2 separate regions of the Homo sapiens genome follow, and region 2 is linked to region 1. The links come from fine-mapping of genetic effects on gene expression. Tissue or cell type: whole blood. Region 1 holds a variant in brackets; the other region holds the start of a gene. All regions are shown on one strand. Distances are between the middles of the regions.

Region 1 (2,847 bases):
AAAACACAGACTGAAGGCTCCCAGCCTAGAATTTGTGATTCAGTAGCTCTGGCTTGGGGGCCTGAGAATTTGCATTTCTCAGGGGATCTTACGTGATGTTGGTGCTGTTGGTCCAGGGATGGCACTTTGAGAACTACTGAAATAAGGAAAACTTGCTGTCTTCCTATAACCTGTACCTTGGGCCCAGCAGGTGCTTATTATTGAAAGAATGATGGCTACCCTCTAATAAAGGAACACTTTTGGAAGTGTCTACTGTGTTCCAGAGACCATGATTACCTCCTCATAATCATCAGGTGGCAGGCTGTACGTTTTGAAAGAGATTCACAGAAAGGTTTGCTCAAGGCACTCAAGTCTTATTGCTTACTTCTCTGTATTTTAAAGTATTAATTCATAAATTGTTTAGATCTAGGCAAGTTTGTGAAAGAATATGTGATACTAGTACAGACCATATGTACTGTACTGTATCATATCATATGTATTGTATCATATATGACATATATATTATATATATATACATACAGAATTGCTGAAAACTAAAATGTTCAAGAGTTAAAAAGGCTTTTGACACTGCAATGGTGGCATGAACGACAACAGGACTGGTCATCTGGAGTGGGGGCTAGGCTTTCTCTAACACCACAAAGGAAATCATCTATGCCAAAGACCTGGTCTGGACAGCAATACAGCTTTCAAGCATTAATGGGAAAGGCAAGAATCAAGGACAAACACACAGGGGACTTTTCTGAAGGTCAAAAAAGCAACAATAAATACCAAACCCAGAAAAGCTTTTAAATCTGACCTTTTCCTGTGCTGAAGCCATTCGCCTTCCAGCATCTTCAATCTAATAGACTGAAGTGGGCTGAAATGGCTCTTAGGAGAGAACTGGGGCTAGTCTTTTCCTTAATGCTGCCTCTTCACCACTACTCAAGCAGCAGCAGCATTACTGGTAATTACATCATTATACCATAATGGAACACATGCGGTGCAAGTGAAACAGCCTGGCGGCTCCCCAGTTGAGGAGAGAAGAAAAGGACTCCACTTTCACTGTTCAATTTCTATTAACTCTCTAGGTTCTGGCTTATTTTCAAAGGCAAACCACCTTTATGACATTTCACAATCTTAAAACAGAGACCACAGACGTGGAGCTTACTTAAAGATCAGGAGTGAAGTTAATGCATTAGTGTA[A/G]TAGAGATCCTCCACGGGAATAGGGATTAGGAGATGTGGGTCCAGTTCTGGCTTTGCTAAAAGCACTTTATGTGACTTGAGGGAAACCATATTTACATCTTTTAGGTTTCAGTTTCCTCATCTATAAACAACAGCAAAGTTTCTGGGCAGGGGATCCCAAAACGTCCCTGTGGGCAATTTGAGATTGGCACGAATGATCACAAGAGCTCTCCCACCCAACTGTAACCTTCTGTTATCAAAAAAGATTCCATGAACAGGAGAGACAGGAGTGAAATAGTATTTGGAAGGCCAACTCTATTTGATCTTCACCAGTTAACCAGATGAGAATTCTTGCCTCTACTCTGACCCATGTATCAGTGTCAGGTCATCTTTATCAACATCCACAGCAACATTTCAAGAGACCAAGCTCAGGCGGGGCATGATGGCGCATGCCTGTAATCCCAGTGCTTTAAGAGGCTGAGACAGTAACATCACTTGAGCCCAGGAGTCCGAGGCTATAGTGAGCTATGATTGCGCCACCGCTCTTCAGCCTGGGAAACAGAGAGAGACCCTGTCTCACTTAAAAAAAAAAAAAAAAAAAAAAAAGACCAAGCTCAGAACTCATTAAATGATCACAGGTCTTCTCAGAGAGAGAAAGTACACAGAAGTACCAAGTATACTGAGATTAAAATGAGGCAACTGAGGTTCTTGATGTCACAAACTCCTTATAGGACCCTGGCTGGGTCAGTCACTTAACCTTAGCCAACTCATCTTTAAGACACAGTGGCTGGGTGTGGTGGCTCGTGGCTCATGCCTGTAATCCCAGCCCTTTGGAAGGCCGAGGCAGGTGGATCACTTGAGGTCAGGAGTTCAAGACCAGACTGGCCAACATGGTGAAAGCCCGTCTCTAATAAAAATACAAAAATTAGCTGGGTGTGGTGGTGTGTGCCTGTAATCCCAGCTACTCAGGAGGCTGAAGCAGGAGAATCACTGGAACCTGGGAAGTGGTGGTTGCAGTAAGCCAAGATCATGTCACTGCACTCTAGCCTGGGTGAAAGAGCAAGACTCCATCTCAAAAAAAAAGAAAAAAAAAAAAAAGACACAGTGGTGGAAGGGGTGATGTTTAGAAATTAGACCCCTTCAGCTCAAGCAGTTTATGATTTTGTTATCTCTGTACAAGTTTCAAATGCTACTACTGGATATTGGGGCACTTGAGGGTGAGAGGTTAGTACTAACAACATGGTAACAATGCCAAATCCTGCAAGACAGAAATGTTTATGTTTTCTTATAGTATTCTTAAGGTTTTCTCACATGCAAGGAAAAAAATATTACCTATAGCAGACCTCAAGAATCAAAACATGCAAAACTACATATTAATTGTTTCATATCTCAGAATCTTCCCTTTTTAGCATCCCAAAAGAAAGTCAAATTATGTTCTTTCTGGTTGTCTTCTGGTCCACCTATAGTAGGTATAAGACTTTGGTTTTGAGCAATTAAGTTAGCCTAGATACCATGAATGACACTCCCAAAGAAAACAACTTAAAAGCTAAATAAAATATTCTTAAATAGTAATTTTGAAAATGAGTCATGCTGTCAAGAAGTAAGGAATCTGTAGAGAACAAAAGTTAAATGAAAGCAGGTGGAAGCAACCTGAATATTCACTGACAAAGAGTGGATTAAAAAATG
Region 2 (2,673 bases), 62 kb after region 1:
TGATCTGGGGAGCCAAGACAGGAAATTCTGGTAGGCTTCTGCCTCTCCCCCCATGGACAGCCACTGGTGCAGCTGACAGAGGGCAGGGTCTATTCCGAGCTCCCTTGATGCACTGCAGCTGGAGGCAACGGCTCCCTTCCAGGCTGTGGGAGTGATCCCGGAGTTCGGCACCACAGCCCGTTAAACAAGGGCATTTCATGGGAAACGGAGAGGGAGCAGATGAGAGACCTTGAAACCTTCCAGCAACCTTACCCCCACTTCCAAACTCCCGCGACTACCCCAAGACCATTTCGGCCAAATCTCAGTAACTGGCACCATCTTGTACTTTGACCTCACCAGGCAAGGCATCCTCTGGGGAGAGGGGTTAAAAAAAAAAAAAAAAAAAGCCAGAACTCCACGGCTCAGCGCCACGCTGTTCCACCTCCCCCAGGCTGCCAGTTCCCCACCTAGAGGGAAAAGGCTGTTCCAGCGATCTCAGTAAACACTGTCGGTTGGCAACACCTGGCCGCGGAGAGCCTCGATCTCTCCCGACCCCAGACACCCGGGAGCTGCCCGGTCCCAAACCCGGGCCAGCCACGGGGACCAAACTGCAGTGTCACACCGGGGTCGGGGGGAGGCGCCTGTGAGAGACGAACGGAATAAAGGGAAAGAAGGGGGACAAACAAATGAGTCACTTAATACAAGGGCTGCACATGCCGCTGACGCTGCCGGTGATGCAGCCGCGGACGGAGGGAGGCCGGCGGCCGGGAGGGGCAGGCGGAGAAAGGGAAGGAGAGGGCGTGAGGCGCTCGCCCTTTGTGGGGCCGTCCGCGCGGCCCCACAGCCTACGCCCCCCTTTCCCGCCCTCTCCCCGACCCTGCGGGCTGAAGCTGCTCGGGGCTGCCGCGGAGCCCCAGCCCCGAGAGTCAACTCTCTCGGTCTCCAGAAGCCATCAATACAAAACTTCGACACTGTATTTAGTTCACGAGCAGACCGGCTTGGGAGGCGCCGCAGCCGCACCCGCCTGGCGGAGCAGGAGCCGCAGCCTCAACCTGCCGCCCGCCCCGCCCCTCGGCGGCCCACCTGTGACAGGTGTGCAGGTGCCCCACACGCCCCCGGCCGCTCCTCGCCCCCGGCCCCCCGCGGCTCCGGGCCCGAGCTCCCCAGCCTGCCGCCCCTCCGGGAGTCCCCCGCCCCTCCGCAGGCCCCGGAGCGCCCCCCGCCCGCCCCTGGGCGGCCGCGCCCGCACTCACATAGCGCCTCAACTTCTTCTCGGGAGGCGATTTCCTCAGCCAGCCGGTGCACACCACGTCGCCGCCGCCGCTCATGCTGCCGGCCTGGAGCCCCCCGCCGGGTCGCGCGGACGAGGGCGCGGGCTCGGGCAGCTGGGGCAGCGGCCGGCGGTGCGCAGCTCGCGGGAGGCCAGGGGCGGGGCGGGCGGCCCGGCGGGGACTAGGCGGCGCGGCGCGGCGCGAGCCCGGCAGCCTCGCGCGCGCCCGCTCCCCCGCCCCGAGCGCGCGCAATCCGCACTCTCCGCCCGGCCGCCGGGGGAGCAGCTGCAGCAGGAAGGCCGGCTCGCTCGCCACGCCCGCTCCCGCCGCGCCCCCGAGGCCGCCGCGCACGCGGACGCGGGGCTAGGGACCCGCGAGGATACAGAAAGCCACCGCCGCCGGCGCGCCCCGGAGTCTCGCTTTCTCCTGAGGCCCCAAGCCGCGGGCGCGGAGGCCAGGGAGGCGACCGCGCCCCTGGCGCTGGCGGGTGTGAGGGGAAGGGACTGCGCGCCCTCGGTCGTCGATCGATTTTTCACCGAGCGTCGACGGGGAAGGGATACTAGGGCTGCTCACATTTCCGATACATTCTGCGGGTCAGGTTCCGGCTGAAAGGAGGGACCCCTTCCCAGCAAGAAGCTCCTTAACTCTGGCGTCCCTCGGCGGGAGGAGGAGACGGACCTACTACGCGCCGGAGCCTTTGCTTTTGTAGCTTACAGGATTGTCTTCAGTATTGTTCCTATTTTATGGACAGCCTAAGGGCAAGGGCTTGTACAAAGCCGAGCCAATTTTCCAATTCAGGTGTGTGGGGGAGGAGGGGTCCCGGTCATCTGCTATTCAAAATGAGGGCATTGCCTTAATGGGATCGACCTGGGAGCCTCTCATTGCCTGGAAACCAAGTCCAGCTGACTCCCTCCTACACTGCCTCTGGGAAAACACAGTTTAGTATAGAAAATTCGCATGATTTGTAGAATGGAAGAAGCAAAACTAGTCAATGTATTTCATAACGAATTGGAAGGCAAGGTCAAGTGCAGAAGAACAAGAAATTGGGGTCCAAATTCCCCAACGTTCCCGCTCATTGACACAGGCTATGAGACCTCTGTTTGTAAATATAATGGTATCCCAGATGTACGTGGAAGCACACAACCCCAGCACTTCAGCGGGAGGGGGGAGAAAAAAATCTTTTGTACGAGCTCTTTTCTCATCACAAAGTGTCTCTCTAAGCAGCATTAAAAGGCAGGTCCTCCCTAACTTCTCTGATAAGTGGATAGTAACCTGTTTATTCAATGGGGAACCGTGCTGTGTGGACAGATGAATTGGAGAAGCAGCATCTTGCAGTGCCCCACACAACCTCAGACTAAAGCTGTTTTGTTTATTTCTGTCTCTGTGCAGCTGAGTTGTTTCAAGCAGTTGGACATCATTTGGT

The links. PIP is the estimated chance that this variant, and not a neighbour inherited with it, causes the effect.
Region 2: it holds the start of GAB2, and the variant in region 1 is fine-mapped to the expression of GAB2 in whole blood (TOPMed, PIP 0.95).

What each region holds. Positions count from the first base shown.
Region 1 is chr11:78,353,938-78,356,784 of GRCh38, forward strand. The region is part of intron 1 of GAB2 (GRB2 associated binding protein 2); the gene reads right to left. Among named protein-coding and RNA genes, the nearest start is that of GAB2, 62 kb to the right of the region's middle. RefSeq lists an enhancer at 1,217-1,366. The variant A/G (reference allele first, on the strand shown) is at 1,183.
Region 2 is chr11:78,416,414-78,419,086 of GRCh38, forward strand. It overlaps GAB2 (GRB2 associated binding protein 2), which reads right to left and starts at 1,407. Exons shown (of 10, transcript NM_080491.3): 1 at 1,233-1,407. The coding sequence starts at 1,307. RefSeq lists silencers at 10-304, 767-896, 967-1,066, 1,177-1,796 and an enhancer at 393-1,147.